Linked DNA regions of Homo sapiens: region 2 is linked to region 1. The links come from fine-mapping of genetic effects on gene expression. A gene starts in region 1. The other region holds a variant in brackets. All regions are shown on one strand. Distances are from middle to middle. Region 1 holds the start of SPG11 (SPG11 vesicle trafficking associated, spatacsin). Region 2 overlaps EIF3J (eukaryotic translation initiation factor 3 subunit J).

What was found. PIP is the estimated chance that this variant, and not a neighbour inherited with it, causes the effect.
Region 2: its variant is fine-mapped to the expression of SPG11 in whole blood (TOPMed, PIP 0.93).

Annotation. Positions count from the first base shown.
Region 1 is chr15:44,660,551-44,672,255 of GRCh38, forward strand. It overlaps SPG11 (SPG11 vesicle trafficking associated, spatacsin), which reads right to left and starts at 3,112. Exons shown (of 40, transcript NM_025137.4): 1 at 2,841-3,112; 2 at 1-66. The coding sequence starts at 3,097. PATL2 (PAT1 homolog 2) reads right to left here. Exons shown (of 18, transcript NM_001387263.1): 9 at 11,465-11,606; 10 at 9,417-9,537; 11 at 9,227-9,324; 12 at 8,960-9,013; 13 at 8,730-8,863; 14 at 8,430-8,589; 15 at 7,792-7,932; 16 at 6,556-6,653; 17 at 5,842-5,991; 18 at 5,182-5,421. The coding sequence ends at 5,403. RefSeq lists enhancers at 2,207-2,346, 2,456-3,412, 2,887-3,366, 3,407-3,576, 6,439-6,538.
Region 2 is chr15:44,542,575-44,555,952 of GRCh38, forward strand. EIF3J (eukaryotic translation initiation factor 3 subunit J) reads left to right here. Exons shown (of 8, transcript NM_003758.4): 3 at 8,302-8,356; 4 at 8,857-8,948; 5 at 11,979-12,093. Among named protein-coding and RNA genes, the nearest start is that of EIF3J, 12 kb to the left of the region's middle. The variant T/C (reference allele first, on the strand shown) is at 3,842.

The DNA.
Region 1 (11,705 bases):
CCAAGAGCGAGCAGTTTGGGCTTTTCAGTTGGTGTGCTGCTGTTACGAGAATCCTCCCATAGAAAGCTAAGAAAAAAAGTTTAGATTTATTATATTCTATATCCGCAATAATATTTACCCACAATGGTGGGGGTAGAAGGGTTGAATAAGTAGAGAACAGTTTAGTTGACCTGGTATAGTCATTCTACACTTCAATCTAAGAGAACATAAACTGCTCTAGGACCTCCCTCCTCTTCCCGCTTCCCTTTTACACCAACACGAAAATACAGGAGTGGGTGGTAAAAAACAAAAATGTGGGGCTCAGAGCAAGAAATGATGGCTCCATTTATTCTTTCATCTTTAATCCCAACTAGTATGTTTAAACAAACTGTCATGATCAAGGGTAGGTATCAACAACAAAATATGTATATTATTTATATGAGGTGGTATTCACAATAAAATAGGCTTTTGATAACTTAAATGTTTTGACTTTTAAAAGAAAGTGATTATTTGTATTTATAGACTGACGATTCCAAATCTTGAAAAACTCTGCCTAATAGAACCTTCCGTGATGGAAATGTTTTATATTAGCATTGCCCAATACAGTAGTCAATAGCCACATGCAGCTACTGAACACTTGAAATGTGGGGCAACTGAGGAACCAAATTTTTTACTTTAACAGCCACATGTAGCTAATGACTACCATTACTAAACGGTAGAGTTACGGAATTCTTAAACTGAAATGTCAAAATAACAACACTGGCAAGACTGATGGTGTTTCAGCTTCAAATTAAATATTAAAACTAAATTACACATTACAAATAAAAGCCCCAGATTTGAAAATAACACAATGAAAGAGGTGAGGCTATACCATGCTGATAAAATTTCATCTTTTAAGAAACTTGCTTCTACAGAAGTAGTGTTTTATACTTCTAGAGTAGTATATAAAACTACTGTGGTACATACATGATTTAATTCAATTAGTAATAAAACTAATAAGAGTACATAATAGTATTATGTACTATTATGTATTTTATACTACTATAGTAGTTTTATACTATTATAGTATTAATATGTCCTTATTAGGTAAAAAAAAGACATTTTTCTGACTGTTCATATTGATAAATGTAGAAAATAACCTAAATGTCAAATATACAAAAGGTTAAACTAAGATATACTTAAAAGGTAGAGTACATCATTAGCATAGGGACAATATTGCCACATGGAAAGACAGGAAATTTTCAATGCAATAAACAAGATATATGATGTAATTTCAACAATATTAAAAAGACCTATGTACTTTGAAAAAGTAGGAAGTAAACTCTAAATACTATAAACATGCCCTTATTTTTAACCTATGAAGTATTTTAACTGAATTAAAATTCAATTCAACTAAAAAAGTTAAAAAGTCCTTTCTTGGTCCTCCTCCCCTCTAATTTCATGAACTAGCATATGAACGCCCCCTTTATTTCATCTCGGTCTTACCTTCCCTGCTGGGTTCTCAAACACCTAAAGATTTCGGCTTTTCTTTGCCCCATTCCTCTCTTTACAGAGCCACATTCATAGGTACTTGATACTGCTAAATAAACTAATTTCCCCTAAACTAGTTTATAAATAACTTAGTTTATAATAAGTTTATAAACTAAACGCAGAGATTCCTCTTTCGAGCAACTAGACATCAAGGGTAGAGAAGACAAACCCAGAAGAGTTAAGCATTCACTGATGTATCAAATGAATCTCTAAATGTCAGGAGCTGTTAGAGGAGCTGGAGATTCCAAGATTAATAAGACACCTTTTGGCTACTCATCTTAAAGAAAGAGTTGTGAAAATACTTACTATTAATAATTATTAAAAGAACAGGTCAGGCTCAGTGGCTCACACCTGTAATCCCAACACTTTGGCAGGGAGAGGCGGGATCACTTGAGCCCAGGAGCTTGAGACTAGCCTAGGCAACACAGTGAGACCTCATCTCTACAAAAACTAGAAAAATTAGCCAGGCCTGGTGGTGCACGCCTGTAGTCGTAGCTGCTGGGGAGGCTGAGCCCGGGAGGTCAAGGCTGGCTGCCGTGAACCGTGACTGAGCCACTACACTCCAGCCTGGGCGACAGCGACCTTATCTTTAAAAAAAAAAAAAAAAAAAAAAAAGCAGCAGCCCACTCAAAACACTAAGAGGGCGTTCCCAAACTTTATGATGTAAACTCTTAAGTACTGAACCAAGAGTTACGGAAGTACAAAGTAATGCATTATTGTAATCATGTTTGTCTTCCCCAAACATGCGCGCCTCGCAAGAAAGAAGTGTCTTACTCAACTTTTTAGGCACTGCTCCTATGTAACAGCAAGCACACAATATTTGCTGAATAAATGAAGGGACAAACTGGACTCTGTCCTTGAAGAAGAGGACTACATGTGAAAGAAAACGCTATTCACTTCAAGGACATGAAAAAAGTATCAGGATGATTCAAATTAGAGATGATCCTCAGCTGGCATCTTTAACTGAAAGAAATGGGCATGGGACTCGACCCTGTGACAGTTAATCAACCTGTGTTGAATAATGAAAGAATCAGCGCCTCAGCTGAGACCCGTTCCGGGTTCGCCGCAGGTGGCAATGGAGCTGGGTGCCGTCTCCGCCCACCCGGAACAGGAGAGCTGGGCTGCCAGAATGCAACGAGGCGAGCGTTTCAGGTCGGGGGAAAGGTTCTGTGAGGAAACCACGCTCGCCTCTGGGGCGTTTCCTGCAGCTGGCACCCTTCTCCCGCCACCTCTATGGCTGCAGGGAGGCCTCGGCGTGAGCCCTTGGGGCTCAGTCAGCCGAGCCTAGGCTCTGGACTCCCCCAACGGCCCAACTCTCCCTCAGCACTTACTGCCAGAAGGGGCCCTCCAGGCAGCAGCGACCCCCGCCCCGGCTGCCAGGCGTCAAAGAAAGCACTTGGAGGCTGCCCGCAGCCGTCAGGCTCCCCAGAGCCTCCGGCTGTGTGCGCAGCTGCGCCCGGGAGCCGAGCTGCCCCATCGCCTCGGCGGGGACTGGCACCAACAGCATCGGTAGAACCCGCCCCATGGCCGCGGTGCCCCAGCTACCGCCGGCGGAAGCAGCACTCGCGACCCCTTCCTCTGCAGCCATCTTGGCCCGGCGGTTACTTCCGGTCACTTTCGCCGGAACCTGACTGCGTCGTGGGCATGCGCGGTGTACGTAGCGGCTCCCGCTCGGCCTCGTGACTCCCGCGGAGACCTCTCGGCTGTCTCCGGTCGATTCCATTCGTTTCCTGTGGGGGGCAGTACCAGCCTCTCTAGCAAAGCCACATCTGCCCTGACGCCAGTCCCACTCTGCTTAACTGCTCTGGCATGCTTGAAGGCCTAGCTTAGCGTAGCAGGCCGTTGCAGCCGTTCTCGCTCTGTGGCATTGCTCTTTGCCTTCTTGGTCCAGCTGCCTCCAGCTCCCTTGGAACCCAGTTCCTGCCTCTTTTCTTCGCTTTTCTTATTGTGCTGTTCGCTTACAGGCTCTGGGGTGGTGCCATTTCCTTGGTAGCATGGACCGTCTTACAGTGTGGATCCATAGTAAGGGTGTTGACCCGAAATTTGAAGTCAAATAATATCCATTGTAACAGTCAGAGAGACGGGGTAAGTAAGGGGTGGAGATGGTAGAGAGCTCCTGTCTGTTTTCTCAGGGAAGTATGATCCAAGATCAAGAGAAGGAGAGGAGCAAAGAGTTTGAGGTGAGAAGAGGGGTTGAATAGGTATTTTGGTAAAGTCTCCTAAAAGACAACTGTACCTTCTTAACACATCTTCCACATTCAGAACATTTCAGCATAAATGTAACCTCTATTGACAGGCCTCCCCAAGCCATTCAACCTAAGGTCCCTTCTACTGCAGTCTCTCACCTAGTTTTGTTTTTAATCATAGTATTTATCACTACTTGATATTTTCTGCCAGTTCCTGTCCAATAAGAATGTAAACTTCAAAAGAGCAAGGACTTTGTTGCTCACCACTGTCCTGGCTAGTACCTAAAACAGTGCATGTTTCATGAAAGGTACTCCCGCATTTGTTGATCAATGCATGACCTTATTTGTCAAAATAAAAGCAAACTTTTTTTTTCTTTTGAGATGGAGTCTCGCTTTGTCACTCAGGCTGGAGTGCAGTGGCGGGATCTCGGCTCACTGCAACCTCCGCCTCCTGGGCTCAAGCAATTCTGCCTCAGCCTTCCCAGTAGCTGGGATTACAGGCGCACGCCACACCCAGCTAAATTTTTGTATTTTAGTAGAGACGGGGTTTCACCATGTTGGCCAGGCTGGTTTCGAATTCCTGACCTCCGGTGATTTACCTGTCCCAGCCTGGAAGTGCTAAGATTACAGACGTGAGCCACCGTGCCCAGCTGAAACCAAACGTTTTCTATCACAAGGGAGATATATTCAACCTTCTAAGCTTAGCTGGGGCTGTGTTCTTTCTGTAAAAAATGGCAACGTTAAAGCAATTTCTAAGGTTACACTTGTGTTAGCTACAACAAAGCCTTGTCCCTTATAATCAGGACAGTCTTCTCATGCCTGTAAATCCCAGCACTTTGGGAGGCCAAGTTGGGAGGATCACTGGAGCCCACCCTTGCCAACATAGGGAGACCCTTGTCTCTACAAAAAAAATCAAAAAAAATTTTTTTTGAGAGTTTTGCTCTTGTTGTCCAGGCTGGAGTGCAATGGCACAGTCTTGGCTCACTGCAACCTCTAACCTCTGCCTCCTGGGTTCAAGCGATTCCCCTGCCTCAGCCTCCGAGTAGCTGGGATTACAGGCGTGTGCCACCATGCCTGGCTGATTTTGTATTTTTAGTAGAGACGCGGTTTCTTCACGTTGGTCAGGCTGTTCTCAAACTCCCGACCCTCAGGTGATCTGCCCACCTCGGCCTCCCAGAGTGCTGGGATTACAGGCATGAGCCACTGCACCTGGCCAAAAAAAATTTTTTTTTAATATTAGCTGGGTGTGGTGTCACATGCCTATAATCCAAGCTACTCAGAAGACTGAGGTGGGAGGATCACTTGAGCCTGGAGGTCAATGCTGCAGTAAGCCATGATGGTGGCACTGCACTCCCACATGGGTGACAGAGTAAGACCCTGTCTCAAAAAAAAAAAAAAAAAAAAAAAGAAAAAGGACATTCCTGGAGCACTCACACATAGGATAGCCTTCATTACAGGTTTTAACTTACAAGCAAGTTCCAACACATCATTCTATTATCTCTTTAATTATACCTTATTATGCCATGTCTTATTTTTAGGCACATCATTTAGATTTTTGAAGAAAGGATATGAAAATGGGGAAGGGTTCTCCAATATATAAAGGCATAAGAAATGTCTTCAGACTCTCTGGATCCCTGTAAACATAGTCTATGTAGCTAGTGTCTGATGATTCAACTTCCCACATACACGTATTCCAGAACAAACAGATCAGTAAATCCAGGCAAACCTATAAAGAGAACAGATATTAACTGCAAGCACAATTCTACTTTGCAAGTATTTATATGATTTAATTAGTATCTGACTCTTTCTAGCAGTAATTCTGAGGACAGAGATGACCATGTTATTCATGCTTATATCCTAGAATAGTTGTCCCTCAAGTATTTCTTGAATGAATAATTCAGGTTCTTAAATTAATTCTTGCCCTCAAATAGGTTAGCACTATAAATGACCAAAGCACCTGGAATAAAAGGTTGGCTGAAGACTTAGTCAAGAATGGTTACTCAGTAAATGTCAGTGTGTAGAACCACTTCTAAAAACACATGATCCTTCATGCTCATAATTTAGAAGAAGGAAGTAGTGAAGCAAGTAACAGAACATAGATTGGGCTTGAACAAGGGGCTTTGACCTTGTTTCTGCCATTACTTACTCCATCCTGGCCTCCAGCTGCTGAACCAATTGTTTGTCCACGTGGTGACAGAACAGGGGAAGTAGGTTGCTGGGGAAAGCTAGGGGTTCTGCCAGAGAGGCTGTAGGCATTTGGGCTATCTCCCAGGCAATCAGAACCACCATGTCTGTCCTAGAGAGCATAAATATAAATATAAGCAAATAGATTTGCTTAAGAAACAGACTCAGGGCCAAGGTTTCTTATTATCTTTCCGTTACTACTACCATTGTCCCCCACCCCCAGGTAGCAATTCAGAGGTAACATTTGCATGTTTGGTACGTGCCAAGCAATGCTTAGTGCTTTACACATTTCCCTTCCTATTTAATCTTAAGAACTATGAGGGGTTAATACCATCATCCCTAGTTTGTAGATAAAGAAACAAACTAAGAGAAGTGAGAAGTGAAAGAACTTGCCCTAAAGTTATATTGCTAGTAAGTGATACAGCCAGAATTCAAACGTAGGTCTTTTTAAAATCTAAAGCTTGTCCCCTTAGGTACTATGTTATACTGCCTCCTAGAAGAAACCGAAACTCTAGGGCACTATAGAAAAAAAGCAGAACAGCTACAACACTGCTACTACTTTCTCTATCCAACCTCTTCCTCAGTACTTGAAAATGCCTCAGGAAATACTTCACCTGGCTCAGTCTGCACATCCCGAGGGTACTAGATAGTATTTACAAGGCCTTTATGATCTTACCAAGCTGTATGGTCACTGTTGGGTTCCTCTAGGGAAGAATGCAGCGATACCAGTTGCTCCCCATGGCTCAGCAGGGCATAGAGCAAAGATATTCCAAACTGCAAGGGACATATATATATTCCAGAGCAAAATGAGTTCACACTCGGCATTTGGTGCTTTCCTGACTCTTATCTTCCCAACTAAAGGACAGGTTCACATTTAGAGATAGAGCTCAAAATATCCACAAGTGCTGTCAGGTTTTACACTGGTGAGCCAAAGAACTCTCTAACCCTTTCCATAGGAATCACTGCTCTGAACTTTTCCAAAAGACACTCTTGGAGAGCTGATTAAATGCATACTTCTAGGCTTAACTCCTAGGAGTAGGAGATCGGGAATGCATCCAGGAATCTGAGGCAGGTAGTCTGTGGACCCCACTTTAAGAGGCACTTCTTTAAGCAAAGACCTTCAGTATGGCATACATGAGATAACCCACTGGGATATTAGAAGAGAGCATCAAAATTTTCACATCTAGAGTCTCATTCTTTAAAATTTTCTGTCTTTTATTATATACCTATTGGCTGGGCGCAGTGGCTCATGCCTGTAATTCCAGCACTTTGGGAGGCCGAGGCAGGCGAATCACTTAAAGTTAGGAGTTCAAGACCAGCCTGGCCAACATGGTGAAACCATGTCTCTACTAAAAATACAAAAATTAGCTGGGTGTGTTGGCGAACACTTGTAATCCCAGCTACTTGGGAGGCTGAGGCAGGAGAATGGCGTGAACCCAGGAGGCAGAGCTTGCAGTGAGCCAAGATCGTGCCACTGTACTCCAGCCTGGGTGACAGAGCGAGACTATCTAAAAAATAAAAAAAGAAAATATTTATTATGTACCTATTATTACTAGTGTTACATGTATTTGATTTATAAACACATGGGTAGTGTGGTTTAGAATATTTTTTTACTGAAAGGGGTATACAAGAGTTTGGAGACCTGCTTTAGAGACTCACATCAGCAGCAATCAGGGAGCTTATTAGAAAAGCAGAGCAGGTGCATGGGCCCCACCCCAGACCTACTGAATGACTGAGTGGGACCAAGGAGCTGGGTTTAATAAGCTTCCAGGTGATCATGTGCTTACTAGAAATAGAGAAGCACTGCAGAGGATAAGATTTGTGTAGAGATGAGACTGTCCCCCAACTTACCCCTTATCAGTGATACCAACCTGAAAGCCATCTATGGAAAAAAGCCTCCTAGACATGTTACCTGATTCTGAAGCACCACGGTGACTGGCCGCTCTGAGGAGCCAGGTGGCAACAGCGTTAATCCCTGAAGTCCTTGGAGGAGTTCGTGGAGGGTCAAGTGACTAATACATTTGCCCAGAGGTTTGAATAACATTTGTAGGGCCTGCAAGAAGATCAGTAAGCACCTCCCAAATTCCACTACAACTTCACCTCCCCTTACCTTGCTTCCACAGTCCCTTCCCTCGCTGACCTGTCTTTGGCACGTCCTGGTGAGGTTACTTACCAGGCTTATCACCACTATGACTCTCCATCCCCAACACTGACACCTTCGGTACCTACTTGTCCTAGGAATCCTTCTCTAAGAAAAGTAGATAGGGGCTCAACATTTATCAGGGCGTCCTAATCTTTTACTCAGACCTCCTCAGCACACTGACACCTGTGCAACCATACACCTGTTGCTTTTTGTTCGTCATACCTGAAGATGATCCACTGTTCCTATAATAGTTCTGTAACTTCCTTGCCTGAGGGTGGCAAGGCCAGCATCCCTCGCTGTGCCCAGCACCTTCTCTGGCATCTCTGGGGCATGTGGGGACTGGAGGGGAGGAATGACCCCTAACCTATTCAGGAGACCATCCTCTTCTCCACTCAATGCCACAGTACCTGATCAGCCACATCCCTCCGGACCAGGAGGGGCAGATGGTGGGTGATAGCCAAAAGAATGGTAACAGCCTGATCCTGGGGCAGGAAGGGGAGCAGCCGGGCCACCAGGGCCTTCCCCTTCCTCACAGAGAGCACCTGCAGGAAGCCATCTGCTGCCTCTCTGCAAGGGAGAGAGGAGAACATTTTCAGAGCTCTGCATAGAGGAGAGGGCTACATGCCACAAAGGAGAGGCAGAAGCAAGACCAGTGTCTTTGCTGCTCCTTCCCTTCCTGGGCTGAGGTGGAACCCTCCCACACTCACTCCAGGTTGTTCTGCTCCTGGGTCTTTAAGGTCTGGAAGAGCTTCTCAACCTGGTTGCTTTGCTGCTCAGAAAAGCAGGGCGGTGGAGGCCTATACTTCCAGCCTTCCTCTATTTCTAGTAACTGAAGGAACATCTGGGAATTTGAGGGTGGAAAAAAGAGGTAAATTTGGGTAATATCTCATTCTCAAAGGTAGGTTTGGAACTCGTCCCTAAGGAACTGATATCTCACCTTCTCAATCCGGTATAATACCCGAAGCCTCTGACTGCTTGCAGCTTCTATATCCTAGGAGAAGGGAGTCACCAGCTATCAGCTACACTGCCACTGCCACAGCCCTAGCCCAGGCCCCCAACTAGCTAGAGATTGAGCTGGAAAGGCTAGAAACAAAGTCTGATCACACTTCTTCCTCCTTCTTCGGTCACAGTCTTAAACACAAGAATGTTCTAGACCCTTCTTCCAAAGGGGAGAGAAAAATGTCTGGGAAGATAGTGCTCCCACCTGCTCTTGAGTTCCATGGGGTACCGCATCAATAGCTCGGCGAGGGCTGAAGCATGTCGACACAGCTACCTGGCCCAGGGAACCCTCGATTCGGACCACTGCATGAGAAGAGAGGCACATTTCCTTCCCCCTCCCACACTCTGTCCACCCAGATGCCCAGCCCAAGTCAGCAGGTCAGCCCTGACCCTACCGGACTCATAAGCCTCTGCCTTCGGAATGTAAGGCGTTACCAGCTTGAGGGACTCAACCCGGTTTCTTCGTCCAAGTAGCTCTTCGTCTGCCTGCTTCTTCTCTAGCTTCTGGTAATATTCCTGAGAATGCACGGAATAGGAAACAAAAAAACAAAACACCTTATATTCATCTTTTGAATTTAGAATTAAGTTTCTCAAGTGCAGCCTCTTAAGTTTAGTTTTTTTGTGTGTGTTATAAGTTTTGTTGTTTGAGACAGCATCTCCCTCTGTCACCCAGCTGGAGTGCAGTGGCGCAATCTCTGGCTCACTGCAACCTCCCTGGCTCAAGTGATCCTCCCACTTCAGCCTCCTCAGTAGCTGGGGCCACAGGCACGTGCCACCATGCCCAGCTAATTTTTGTATTTTTTGTAGAGGTGGGATTTCACCATGTTGCTCAGGCTGGTCTTGAACTCCTGGACTCAAGCAATCAGCCCTCCTTGGCCTCCCAAAGTGCTGGGATTACAGGCGAGCCATTGTGCCCAGACAAGCACGGCCTCTTAACACTCTTTCCTACAACAATCATTCCAGAAATGATGCTGGCACCTTAGGCCCTCCTTGCAGTTATTCTAAAGTGTCTTAAGCACCCTGGGCCCCACATCACCCATCTTGGAATTCACATACCAAATACTTAAAGACCAGATACCACCACCAAGTCTGATGAAAGGTCAGAGAGCAAAGTGGAGAGCCAGTGAGCAAACCTGTTCCAGCGTCTGTAACCTTCCTGCATTCCTCATGCTCTAGTACCCACACACTGCATACCACCTGTCCTCCCCACTTCCCCATTTAATCTTGTGATCTCACCTGTGCTTTCTAAAAATCAGTTATCTGATGGTATGAAGGCCATCCAGAGGTTTAAGCACAGAACTAGCTATAGGGAAGTGTTTGTCAGTTGCCCTCTAGGCCAGTTTTATACTTCTGTGGATTTGCTCAGCAGCTCTGACATTTTCTTAAAGTTGAGAAATCCTAAACTAAAATCCACTGACAAGCCAAACAAGGATTTGAAAAAGGCTCTTTTGTTTAGAAGCAATGCCAAAAAGGCAAGAATACAAAACTATTTCACTTTCAGTGACCCTCGCAGAAAAAGGAGGGCTTTTGAAGCTTGGTGGAAAGAAAGGAAAAATACCTAATGTAAATGAGAAGGCAATAAGGATGGGGCACTGGATGGGAGGCTCCCAGATGTTGAGGTGAAAGTGAAACAGCCAGCCGGGCGCGGTTGCTCATGCCTGTAATCTCAGCACTTGGGAGGCCGAGGCGGGTGGATCACTTGAGGTCAGAAGTTCAAGACCAGCCTATCCAACATGGTGAAACCCCATCTCTACTAAAAATACAAAAATTAGCTGCGTATGGTGGTGCATGCCTGTGATCCCAGGTACTTGGGAGGCTGAGGCAGGAGAATCACCTGAACCCTGGAGGTGGAGGTGGCAGTGAGCTGAGATGGTGCCACTGCACTTCAGCCTGGATGACAGAGGGAGACTCTGTCTCAAAAAAAAAAAAAGAAAAAGAAAGATAACAGCCTAGACAACCCAAAAACTTGTGGATAAAGACTTGCCCCATAAATAAAGGCAGAAGGAAGCAGGGGAAAATGAGTAAAAATATCTGCTGTCGTTCTTTCAATTAAACAAACTGAATCCCACTATTTATAACATCCCTGTGCTTTAGATCTAAAAAGTCAAAGTAGATGAATATAACAAGACATTTCTCAGCATACACAGGTGGGAAAATCCATATTTCCTGGGTGAACAGGGAAAATTCTTAGCAAAGAGTAGAGACAAAACCCAAGTGTGTTTGGGGAACTGGAAATAATCTTAGTTGGCTGAAATGTAGGAAGATAGAGAGAAATGAGTTTGGGATGTCAATTTTAGAAATACGGCCCCCATCCTGTAGTGATTCTCTCTCCCACCTGAACAGACATGACCTCTATGAGCCGAAGAGAGGATCAGAGCGGGCCCGGGAGTCCAGGCCCATTTGACCCAAGGTCAGAGGCTGGGCTGAGTACTGCGGGGCTCACCTGGTAATAGTAGTCATCCAGGCGGGGTTTTGCACTCTGCAGCTGCACCATCTGCACTTTTATCACCCAGTCCTTCTCTTTTCTGGTCATGAGGTTAGCATAGGGGTCTGGCTGCTGAGACCAAGGCTTCTTGGCTGGGGGACTTTAAGCCAGGAGGAACAACCCTTTAGACTTACCCACCACTGGCACTTCCTAAGGAGTGTGGTGAGCAGGAAGTGGGGCTCTCTGGGAAGGATGGAGC
Region 2 (13,378 bases), 120 kb before region 1:
AGAACCAGCTAACTACTGGCCACATTGTTAGAAATAAAAAGAAAGCAAGATATAAAGTTTTCTGCTTTGCTTCTGATACTTAGTTGTGTTCAATTAGGGAAGCAAGTTTTAAAGTTAAAAAGCAGCCATCTCTTTCATAGAAATAGCTTAAATGATGGGTGTGTATCTGCAGGGCAAGAGTATAGATAAGCAAGTAGTTTATAAACAGGCCCTATTCTAAGAAGCTAGCCATTTTAGGAGAGCAGCCTGGGTGATTCTTTTGAAGATAAATTGGATATTATAGTTGAAAGATTAATTGGCTACCAAAAATAATTGGGTAAAGGATTTAATTGGATGTTCATAGGTAGTCTCTTGAACCAAATAACCATTTAGGGCTCTTTGAAGTGAGTTGTAGACTTGCTCCCTATTTTAAGTGTTAATTTTAGCTGTTTCTCTAGGAAGCCTTTTTACATTTTATCTGAATTTGCTGCTGGAATTTACAAACTTCTAATGTTTACAAAAAATTGGGCATATTTTTTGAAGCAGCGTGGTGAACATTCTACCTTAAATCTACTTTTCAGACACTTAATTTTATAACTATGGAAACAAAAACTCTAACTTCCTGGGGAAAGCTACCTGGCCTTTTGCTTTTATAATTACATCTGTTTGGAAGTGTGACCAGTCTCTTTTTGCTGACACTTACTATGCTCCTTTCTTTAGGGGCTTAGTGCTAGTTTGGTAGTAACTTCAGGGCAGACTTGTAAGCACTTTGGGGAGAGAGTGACAGTCAAGGTTTGGATGGTCCTTTTATGAATTGAGGAGCAGATGTCATGGCTCTTCTTGGTACATGTTGATAGGAACCACTTTTTTTTTTTTTTTTTGAGATGGAGTTTCGCTGTCTCCAGGCTGGAGGGCAGTGGCGCAGTCTCGGCTTACTGCAACCTCCGCCTCCTGGGTTCAAGCGATTCTCCTGCCTCAGCCTCCCAAGTAGCTGGGACTACAGGTGTGCGCCACCACACCCAGCTAATTTTTGTATTTTTAGTAGAGATGGGGTTTCACCATGTTGGCCAGGATGGTCTCGATCTCTTGACCTCGTGATCTGCCTGCCTTGGCCTCCCAAAGTGCTGGGATTACAGGCATGAGTCACCACGCCTGGCCAGAATCACTTCTTTTGCTACTAAAATCCATTCTGTGATGGAGTAGGGAATGTCTAGGTAGCTTCATTATGTCTGCATTGATGTGTGTCTGGGGTAAGGTTTATGCTTTGATGGGAGAAACTAGGGACAGGGATAGAGGTGGACATAGAGTTGGTGTGAATGTACTGAGGGAGCAGTGATATGGGTGGGGTGGGGGTTATGTTTTTCTGGGAAGGGTAACTGAAGAGCATCAACATTAAATAAAAATGCTCCTGTGTTGAGTTTGTTTCTTTACCTTGGAGGTATTGAGATGGAGCTCCTTATTTTCAGCCATACTTCTTCCTTCTTGACCTCTTACTACCAGAGGCTTGCAGACCAGTTTTTTTCTTTTTTCTTTTCTTTTCTTTTCTTTTTTTTTTTTTTAGACGGAGGCCTTCTCTATCACCCAGGCTGGAGTGCAGTGGCGTGATCTCGGCTCACTGCAACCTCTGCCTCCCGGGTTCAAAGTGATTCTTGGGCATCAGCCTCCCGAGTAGCTGGGACCACAGGTGCACACCACCACGCCCTGCTAATTTTTTTTGTATTTTTAGTAGAAACAGGGGTTTGCCATGTTGGCCAGGCTGGTCTTGAACTCCTGAACTCAGGTATTCCACCCACCTTGGCCTTCCAAAGTGTTGGGATTACAGGCGTGAGCCAACTCATCTGGCCCAGTTTCTTAAATTAGTAGAAAACTGGCCAGGCGTGGTGGCTCACACCTGTAATCCCAACACTTTGGGAGGCTGAGGTGGGTGGATCACCTGAGGTCGGGAGTTCAGGACCAGCCTGACCAACATGGAGAAACCCATCTCTACTAAAAATACAAAATTAGCCAGTTCGTGGTAGCACATGCCTGTAATCCCAGCCACTTGGGAGGCTGAGGCAGGAGAATCGCTTGAACCCAGGAGGCAGAGGTTGCGGTGAGCTGAGATCGTGCCATTGCACTCCAGCCTGGGCAATAAGAGCAAAACTCCATTTAAAAAAAAAAAAAAAAAAAAAGGTGGGAGGGGCCAGGCACGCCTGTAATCCCAGCACTTTGGGAGGCTGAGGTGGGTGGATCACGAGGTCAAGAGATCAAGATTATCCTGGCCAACATGGTGAAACCCGGTCTCTACTAAAAACACAAAAATTAGCTAGGCATGGTGGTGCATACCTGTAGTCCCAACTACTCAGGAGGCTGAGGCAGGAAAATTGCTTGAACCTAGGAGGCGGAGGTTGCAGTGAGCTGAGATTGCGCCACTGCACTCCAGCCTGGCGACACAGTGAGACTCCATCTCAAAAAAAAAAAAAAGATCAGTAGAGAACCACTACAGGCAATTTAAGGTGAGAAGTTTGGTAACCAGTATACCTCTAGCTGGGCATATCTTAATATGTGTAATAATCCTTCTCTTTATGAGATTCCCAGAGTTCCCAGGAGAGGGACTTAGTTCCCAGTTAGTTATTTTATACTTCAGGACTCAGGGAAGAAGTCATATTTACTATAATACTATTTTTATTTTTATTATTTTGCATTGGAATTGCATTGGAATTGCTTTATTCCAGCGAATTAAATTGTTTACCAGACTGTGAATTTTGTAAGCAAGTGTTTAAAACATGCTTTTTAAAGACCTTCCTTAACATTGTGTTTAAAGCCTTAAATGAAGCTGTTTACATGTATACATTTAAAGGATGTATCTCAGCATGTTACTCTAAAGATGTGTTGTAAGCTGCTTTATTACAGTGAATTGAACTCTACTAAACCGTGAACTTTGTAAGCAAGTGTTTAAAACATGCTTTTTAAAAAAGTAAATCATTTTATTTTCAATAAAAAGGTCAGTCAAATGTTTAGTTATTTAAAACTTTTTTAAAATTAGTTTTTATAATTGGCAAATAATGTACATATTTATGGGGTATATTGTGATGTTTCAATGCATGTATACATTGTAATTACCATTTCATCACTTTAAACATTTATCATTTCTTTGTGGTGTTAACATTCAAAATTTTCTTATGGAACTATCTTGAAATATATAACATTGTTATTAGCTATAATCACCGTACTGTGTAATAGAACACCAGAACTTATTCTTCTAACTGTAACTTTATACCTATGACACTTTAAAGAACTTTGGTCCATTCAGAGCAGGTCCCTTAGTTTTTCACTGAGATTGTGGGTTGGCTATGTCTGGGCCTGGGTTTCCTTTTCTTTAAAATGGGGGAATAACACTACCTTCTTACAGGACTGTTGTGAGAATTAACCTTGTTACTACACCTGTTTCTCAGAAGGGTTTTAAATATGCATCTTCTGGAAGTAAGCAAATGGTCCTCCTATCTGAAACACTGCCCCCTATCACTCACAGATCCAGCCTTCCTGTGTTCTGTGAAGATTTAAACAACAAAAAATGCCTAGTAATTCACTTTTATTTTTAGCTCTTTGGTTCCTTTTGTACTGTGATGTATAGCACTTAGCAAACTAACGGCGAAATACAAACGTTTGATCTCTAATTTCTAACTCTAGTATCACAGTTACTCAAATAATGACTAGCTGGTTTGCTTTCAATCTGTTAAAACTGCGAGCTGTGGGTTAAATTGCTGAAGTAAGATGAATATAAAAATACACTTACTTTTTAATACAAAGTTCCTTTAATTATGCTTGCAGACTGTATGACAGCCTTAATCAGGATGTTGAATTTTTAATTTCTTTACTGGAC[T/C]TAGAGATTTTTATTAAGAACCAAGGCTTGGTTAGTTTATATTCCTAGACTGATACAAATTTGTGATCTGTCGTGTTATGAAACCAGAAGCTTGGTGTCATATTGTGGCATATTAGTCATACTAGTCAGCCTTTGCTTCTTTAGTAGCATCAGGGCCTCTTGCCCTGCTTTTGCCATCTTGCCACTCAGCTTCAAATGGCATGTCATAGTGTGCCTGGTGGCTGCTGAGACAATGGCCAGGCTACCTATGATTAAAGCCATCTTTAATCATAGGGCTGTGTCTGTCCCTATTAAACTTGAGCCTTCTAAGTTCTGTGGAGCTTTTAGAAAATTGTGTTTGATAATTGGTTTATATTTAGCTCAATGATTGAGTTAGGCATAGAAAAAACAGAGTATAGATCTTTTTTTTTTTTTTTTTTTTTTTTTTTTGAGACAGAGTCTCTGTTGCCTAGGCTGGAGTGCAGTGGCTCGATCCTGGCTCACTGCAGCTTCGCCTCCTGTGCTCAAATGATTCTTGTTCCTCAGCATCCTGAGTGGCTAGGATTACGGGCGTGCACCACCATGCCCACCTAATTTTTGTATTTTTTAGTATAAACGGGGTTTCATCATGTTGGCCAGGCTGGTCTCGGAACTCCTGGTCTCAAGTGATCTGCCTGCCTCGGCCTCCCAAAGTGCTGGGATTAAAGTGCCCTGAGTTAGAGAGTGGGATCCATGAAGGCTTGATTAGCTGTTGACTTTTTTTTGTGAGACGGAGTTTCATTCTTGTTGCCCAGGCTGGAGTGCAATGGCGCGATCTCGGCTCACCACAGCCTCTGTCTCCTGGGTTCAAGCAATTTTCCTGCCTCAGCCTCCCGAGTAGCTGGGATTACAGGCATGTGCCACCACACCCAGCTAATTTTGTATTTTTAGTAGAGACGGGGTTTCTCCATGTTGGTCAGGCTGGTCTTGCATTCCCGACCTCAGGTGATCTGCCTGCCTTGGCCTCCCAAAGTGTTGGGATTACAGGCGTAAGCCGGCCTTGATTCTTTTTTTTTTTTTTTTTTTTTTTTGAGACGAAGTCTCGCCGCACTGTCACCTGGGCTGGAGTGCAGTGGCACAATCTTGGCTCACTGCAACCTCCCACTCCTGGGTTCAAGTGATTCTCCTGCCTCAGCCCCCAAGTAGTTGGGATTATAGGTGTCTGCCACCACGCCCAGCTAATTTTTTGTATTTTTAGTAGAGACAGGGTTTCACTATGTTGGCCAGGCTGGTCTCAAACTCCTGACCTCGTGATCCGCCCACCTCAGCCTCCCAAAGTGCTGGGATTACAGGCATGAGCCACGCACCCGGCCTGACTCCTTTTTAATAGTGGGCTTTAGAATTATATAGACTTAATTCATTAACCAGGCTTATGTTGTATGGAATACTACTTGAAATAAATGAGCTATTGGCCAGAGTATAGGATGCTTTTTACATTTGGGGGGAAGTAAGAACTATAAAGTTCTCTCAGTTTTTATTTATTAATAACTGAATCACTTTCAGAGAGGCTATTGATTTCAGCTAGGTTGTCCTAACTGCTAATGGAGAAGCTTTCTTATGAAGTTAGATAAGTTGATATGAGGGTTCATATGGAAAAACAAAACATGCAAGAAAGGCCAAGAAAACACTAAAAAATCTGAAAACCTACAAGGAAGGACTAGCTCTAGCTGACATTAAAGTAAAGCCTCTGTAATTAAAACAGTACCGGCTGGGCATGGTGGCTCACGCCTGCAATCCCAGCACTTTGGGAGGCTGAGGATCACCTGATGTCAGGAGTTCGAGACCAGCCTGGTCAACATGGAGAAACCCCGTCTCTACTAAAAATACAAAAATTAGCCCGGCATGATGGTGGACACCTGTAATCCCAGCTACTCCAGAGGCTGAGGCTGGAGAGTCACTTGAACCCAGGAGGCAGAGGTTGCAGTAAGCTGAGATCGCGCCATTGCACTCCAACCTGGGCGACAAGAGTGAAACTCCGTCTCAAAAAACAAGACCAAAAAAACCCAGTATGGTACCGTTATATGGAGAGACAGTAGACTAGTGGGATAGGATCAAAAGCCCAGAAATAGACCAAGTACATATGAAAATTTAGTATATGGTAAGTCACAAGGTATCTTAAAATGTTTTTTGCTGCAATAGAATGCAATAGACTGGGTATTGTATAAACAACAGATTTATTTCTTATGGTTATGGAGGCTGAGAAGTCCAGTATCAAGGTGCTGGCATCTGGCGAGGGCCTTCTTGCTCTATTATCCTGGGGCAGAAGGGCAAAAGAGCACAAAGGATTGCAGGAGGTGTCAGAACTCATCCTTTTATCAGATATCTACTCCTAATATAAAGGTATTAATAATTCATTCATGAGGGCTTTGCCTCTAATCATTTCTAAAAGACCCTACTTCTCAACACTGTTGGATTGGAGATTTCATCACATGAACTTTGGAGGACACATTCAAACCATAGCCCAGGGAAAAAAACCATTATTTATTAAAGGGTTTTTAATAAATGATGCTGTGACAACTGGGTAGCCATTTGGGAAAAAAATGAAATTAGATCCATGTTGCATATCATAACACAAGAAAAAAACTCCAAATCAGAGATCTAAATAAAAAAAAAAATGAAACCCTATACATTCTAGAAGAAATTGTGGGTGAATTCTTAGGTGTAAGAAAAGACTTTCTGGCTGGGCGAAGTGGCTCATGCCTGTACTCCCAGCACTTCGGGAGGCTGAGGTGGGCGGATCACCTGAGGTTGGGAGTTCGAGATCAGCCTGACCAACATGGACAAACCCCATCTCTACTAAAAATACAAAGTTAGCCAGGCATGGTGGTGCATGTCTAATCCCAGCTGCTTGGGAGGCTGAGGCAGGAGAATTGCTTGAACCCGGGAGGTGGAGGTTGTAGTGAGCCTAGATCATGCCATTGCACTCCAGCTTGGGCAACCAGAGCAAAACTCCAACTCAAAAACAAAACAAAACAAAACAAAACAACAAAAAAACAAGAAAAGACTTTCTAATTGACTTGAAATCCATCCAGAGGCAATGAAAGAAAAGACTGGGGCTAGGCACGGTGGCTCACGCCTGTAATTCCAGCACTTCGGGAAGCCGAGGCGGGCGGATCATGAGATCAGGAGTTCGAGACCAGTGTGACCAACATGGTGAAATCCTGTCTATACTAAAAATACAAAATTAGCCAGGCATGGTGGCATGTGCTGGTAATCCCAGCTACTCGGGAGGCTGAGGCAGGAGAATCACTTGAACCTGGGAGGCAGAGGTTGCAGTGAGCTGAGATCGTCCCTGTATTCCAGCCTGGGCGACAGAACGAGACTCCGTCTCAAAAAAAAAAAAAAAAAAAAAAAAAACCATTTCTACTAAAAATAAATGAGCCAGGCATGGTGGTGTATGCCTGTAATCCTAGTTACTGGGGAGGCTGAGGCAGGAGAATCGCTTGAACCTAGGAGGTGGAGGTTGCAGTGAGCTGAGATCGTGACATTGCACTCCAGCCTGGGCAAGAAACTCCGTCTCAAAAAAAAAAAAAAAGTCTGGTAAATTTTATTGCATAAATTTGTTGGGATGCATAGCAATTCATGGGGAAACAATAGAGGCATTTCCATCAAGAAAGCAAGGATGCCCATTACTTCTGCTGCTGTTCAACATTGCACTAGAGGTTTAGCTGGCCCAATTAGGTAAATCACTTGTGAGGGCCTAAGGATTGGTAGAGAAGTAAAGCTATCTTTTGTTTGCAGATAAGGTAGCATACCTGTAAAACCCTAGAGAAGCAACGATAAATCTAACTTAAGTGATAAATGAATTCAGTAAGGTAGCAGGATATTAACATATAAAAAAGCCAATAGTCATTTTTGTTTATTTGTTTTGAGACAGGGTTTTTATGATAGTGAGTTGCCTAGGATAGAGTGCAGTGGCACTATCATAGCTCACTGCAGCCTTAACCTCCTGGGCTCAAGTGATCTTCCCACCTTAGCCTCTCAAGTAGCTGAGACTACAGGCACATGCCACGTTGCCCAGTTAATTTTTTAATTTTTTTTTTTTTTGCAGAGACTGGGTCTTGCCGATAGGTTTTTATACACAAATAATAGCCACCTAGAGGACATAATAGGAAAACACCCTATTTATAATAGCAACATACAAGATGAAATACTTAGGAATAAATCTAAAGAGAAATGCGCAGAGCCTCTAATAGGGAAATCACTTTAAAACACTTCTGAAAGGTACAAAAATGTACTTGATCAAATGGAAAGACAGTTCTTATTCTTGGTTAGGGCAGCTCAGCATTATAAGATGTCAATTCCCCCTACATTAATTTATAAATTTAATGCAGTACAAAAAAATACCAACAAACATTTCTCTGGAGTTAGTCAAGTTGATAATAAAGTTCACATAGAAAAGCAAACATGCAAGAATTATTAATGGAAGTCCTTTTCTTTAGGATAACTGGGATGACGATGATGATGAAAAAAAAGAGGAAGCAGAAGTAAAACCAGGTGAGCCACTGGGGCGCCTCCATTTTTGTTTTTATGTCTTGCTGAGCATTTGTGACTTGTATTAAGACAAATGACAGAACGCTCACAAAATGGAACATTTTGGTATTTAGAAACCAAGTGTCCTTCCATTCCCACTTTATTCTGTTTTCCCTGCAACTTTTCTCTATCGCCTCAAAATATAATCAGATTAGATACTTGCTGTATTTCTGTATGAGTGCTTGTTAGTAGGAAAGGGTAGAGGTTCTGGCATTAATTATAGTTGAATGATCTAAGCCCTGCCTATAGGACGGTGGGGAAATATGAAGAGATATTTGGATCTTAGGGGTCACATTAGAGAGGAGAAGGAAGAGTCCCAGAAGTTTCCCATTATTTGTGAGAAAAATCACTGTTTGAAGCTGGGAAAGGTTTGGTCTCTTAATAGTATACAAGTATCATGTCTGTCTCATCCATAAACTGGAAAATACTCAGTATAACTGAATAAAACTTTTTTTTACTTTTAGAGGTAAAAATTTCAGAAAAGAAAAAAATAGCAGAGAAGATAAAAGAGAAAGAACGGCAACAGAAGAAAAGGCAAGAAGAAATTAAAAAGAGGGTAAATTCTGTTTTCTAAAATACAGAATTCTCACATCGGTAGTGGTATAGTTTCTAACAGGCTGCAAATATTACCTAGGAATTTGAAGGGCTCTGTGAAGACTGTAAATGGATACCATAAGATAGGTAAAATCCAAAACAAATTGATTTGTGGTTTTTGCAAAAACAGAACCCAGTTTTATATATGAGTGTCTTTTAAGTTTTCACAAACATTCAGGAATAGTCATGATAGTGCAGTGACTACAGTCAGTGATTTTTGCCAGTGCCTGTAGTTCATTCTAGTCAGCAGTATTAGTTTTTGTTGTTGTTTTTTGTTTTTTTTTTTTGGAGACGGAGTCTTGCTCTGTCGCTAGGCTGGAGTACAGTGGCACAATCTCGGCTCAGTGCAACCTCTGCCTCCCGAATTCAAGCCATTCCCCTGCCTCAGCCTCCTGAGTAGCTGGGACTACAGGAGCCACGGCGAGCTAATTTTTTGTATTTTAGTAGAGATAGGGTTTCACCATGTTGGCCAGGATGGTCTCAATCTCCTGACCTCGTGATCCACCCGCCTCGGCCTCCCAAAGTCCTGGGATTACAGGTGTGAGCCACCGCGTCTGGCCAGGATTAGTTTTTATTTGCAGTGTATATATTGAACATAATATAAAAATTGTTCATTTCTGTGCCATGTGCTATATAAATGTATTTGTTTTTGATTTTTTGGCACAGGATCAGAAATATATGCTTGTTTTTTTTTGTTTTTGTTTTTAGACAGAGTCTCACTCCGTTACCTAGGCTGGAGTGCAGTGGTGTGATTTTGGCTCACTGCAGCCTCCACTTCCCAGGTTCAAGCAATTGTCATGCCTCAGCATCCCAGGTTGGAATTACAGGCACACGCAACCATGCCTGGCTAATCTTTGTATTTTTAGTAGAGATGGGGTTTCGCCATGTTGGCCGGGCTGGTCTCAAACTCCTGACCTCAAGTGATCTGCCTGCTTCGACCTCCCAAAGTGCTGGGATTACAAGCATGAGCCACCACGTCCAGCCTATTTTCTATTTCTTTTCTTTTCTTTTTTTTTTTTTAGAGATGGAGTTTCACTCTAGTCGCCCAGGCGGGAGTGCAATGGCGTGATCTTGGCTCACTGCAACCTTCTCCCGGGTTCAAGTGATTCTCCTGCCTCAGTCTTCGAGTAGCTGGGACTGCAGGCATGTGCTACCATGCCCAGCTAATTTTGTATTATCAGTAGAGATGGCATTTCACCGTGTTGGCCAGGTTGGTCTCAAACTCCTGACCTCAGGTGATCCACCCGCCTTGGCCTCCCAGAGTGCTAGGATTATAGGCGTGAACCACTGTGCCTGGCCTATTTTCTATTTCAGAACACATTTACATGGTTCAAAAATTAAAACAGCCTGCGTGGTGGCTCATGCCTGTAATTGCAACGCTTTGGGAGGCTGAGGTGGGAGTATTGCTTGAGTCCATGGATTTGAGACCAGCCTGGACAACATAGGGAGACCCCGTCTCTACAAAAAATAGAAAAATAAGCTGGGCGTGGTGGTACATGCCTGTAGTATCAGCTGCTTGGGAGGCTAAGGTAGGAGAATCACTTGAGCCCAGGAAGTTGAGGCTGCAGTGAGCCATGACTGCGCCACTACACTCCAGCCTAGGTGACAGAGCAAGATCCTGCCTCAAAACAAAAAAAAAAAGAAGAAAACGGCCAGGCGTGGTGGCTCACGCCTGTAATCCTGGCACTTTGGGAGGCCGAGGCAGGCAGATCACAAGGTCAGGAGATCGAGACCATCCTGGCTAACACGGTGAAACCCCGTCTCTACTAAAAAATAGAAAAATTAGACGGGCGTGGTGGCGGGCGCCTGTAGTCCCAGCTACCTGGGAGGCTGAGGCAGGAGAATGGTGTGAACTCAGGAGGCGGAGCTTGCAGTGAGCGGAGATCGCACCACTGCACTCCAGCCCGGGCGACAGAGCGAGACTCCATCTCAAAAAAAAAAAAGAAAAAATAATTATATTCCAGTATAAAGAGAAGATAGATATACACTAAGCTGTCAACTGTCATGTCAGAGAAGTGGGTTTGGGAAACAAATGACATCTACTATTATATCTTTAAAATTTGTTATAGTGGTAATTTTATAATTATACAATATGATGAAAAGGGGAAATGTTTTGAACCATTCTGTTGGACATTTAGGTTGTCTGTAAATTTATTTGAAATTATGAATAATACTCTAATGTACATTCTTGGGCTTACATATTTGTGTGCATCTTATTTCTTAAGGTAAATACCTGGAAGTAGAATACTTGATTAAAGCATGTAAAAATATTATTTAAGACTTGATCCATATTACCAAGTTGCCCTAGAAAGGGTTTTCCAATATAGTTTTAGTAGCAGTGTATGAAAGTAATATTTTTACCTTGTCCACAGTCTCAATTCCTTTTTTTAAAAAAGGTTATAGAAGTAACCCCAGTCTTCCTGGGTACAAATCTGTCACGTTACCAGCTGTTACCTTCTATTTAGTTGTGGGCAGGTTGTTTCTTTGTGCCTCCATTGCTTATCTTTAAAATTGGGTTAAGGATACCTAAAGTGGACTGGGCGCAGTGGCTCACACCTGTAATCCCAACACTTTGGGAGGCTGAGATGGGCGGATCACTTGAGGCCAGGAGTTCAAGACCGGCCTGGCCAACATGGTGAAACCCCATCACTGCTAAAACTACAAAAATTAGCTGGATGTGGTGGTGCACGCCTGTAATCCCAGCTACTCGGGAGGCTGAGGTATGAGAATCACTTGAACCCAGGAGGCAGAGGTTACAATGAGCGAAGATCATGCCACTGTGCTCCAGCCTTGGTGGCAGAGTGAGGCTCTGTCTAAAAAAAAAAAAAAAAAAAAAAAAACTAAAGTGTTTAGAAGAATGCCTGAAACAGTAATTACCAGTGTTCACTTTTATTTGTTATTATATACGCTTATTTAAGAATTCGTACAATACAGAAAGGTACTGAGTGCATCATAATCCCTGTGCTTTTTAAAAACTTTTGTCTCATTTTAGTTAGAAGAACCCGAAGAACCTAAAGTGCTAACACCAGAAGAACAATTAGCAGATAAACTGCGGCTAAAGAAATTACAGGAAGAGTCAGACCTCGAATTAGCAAAGGAAACTTTTGGTAAGACGGGATTATGATTGCAATACAGTATTAAACTGTTACAGGTGAAGACCCAGAAAGTTCAGAAAACATCTCCTTTTCTTAAAAGAAACATACTGGCTAATGTAGATATTAGAAAGCAGTTTTTAATCTCTGTGTATATTTGAGATTTCATTACATGTTCAGATTTTTGAATAATTGTTTTGAGTAAAAGATTATTAAGATAAGTCATTTATAGCAATGCAAGAAGGGCAAAAAGGAGTAGACTCAGATGAAGTACACTACTGCATAGAATATTTTTATCAGCTGGATGAAATTTGCATGAAATGTGAGGTCTGTAGCTTTGAAATGGACTGTAGGGCTGTCCTGTTGTCTTAAGACTTAGACAGTAGGATGTTGCTCCAGGTGAGAGGCATGCAGCTTTTGCTGTGCCTTCTTGTGCTCAGTGTCATTTCCTTCTGCAACCCTTCTTTGCCCTTACCATGCCCTATCTTTAGAGGGCCTCCATTTCTTTGTGCGGTGTCTGCAGCTGTGGTTAGTGCGTGAGATAAAAGTGCAGGATCCTATAAATAGATAAATTCAGAGTGTTCCAGAGTAAGAGACATGGCTAGAGAAATAGTCAAAGCCCTCGCTTCATTTAACCAAGTTATCGTTACCTGTTGAGTACTTTTCAGAGTAGAAGATCATGTTGAAACAGTTAAATCACTGAAATTTATAACCAAGAAGGAAAGCTCTAGTTATTCTGATACCCCTCCCCCACTTTCATACTTTCTCTACTCTGAAACAGATCAACAGGCTGACTGTAGTGATTGTTTTCCTTTTCATGAGGAAGTATGACCTTATCTGTCAGTGGATCTGTACAAATACCAGGAGTTGATGTGAATGCTCCTGTGCACCATTGTATGCTTGGCAGGTCTTAACTGCACTCATCTAATTATAGAGAGCTCTTGGCTGTTAATATGTGTCTTCCTAGGATGGTAAAAGCTGCCCATGTGTTTATTAAAGAGGCAGGTTTATGAAGTGTGCATAAAGCCTAGCATGGGACACCTGTTATAGACTAAAAGGTAAAAACATGCATTCATATAGTCATTGTTAATAGGATTTTACTGTTGTGTTTCTCATACTAAAATACCACATGTAATATTGTTAATAACTAATCTACTTGACATGGAGGATACAGAAGCATACTTATCTTAGTGTAAAACTCATCTAGGCCAGATTTTTTTTTTTCTAACAGGGTCTGGCTCTGTCATCCAGGCTAGAGGACAGTGGCTGAGATCGGCTCACTGCAACCTCTGCCTCTGGG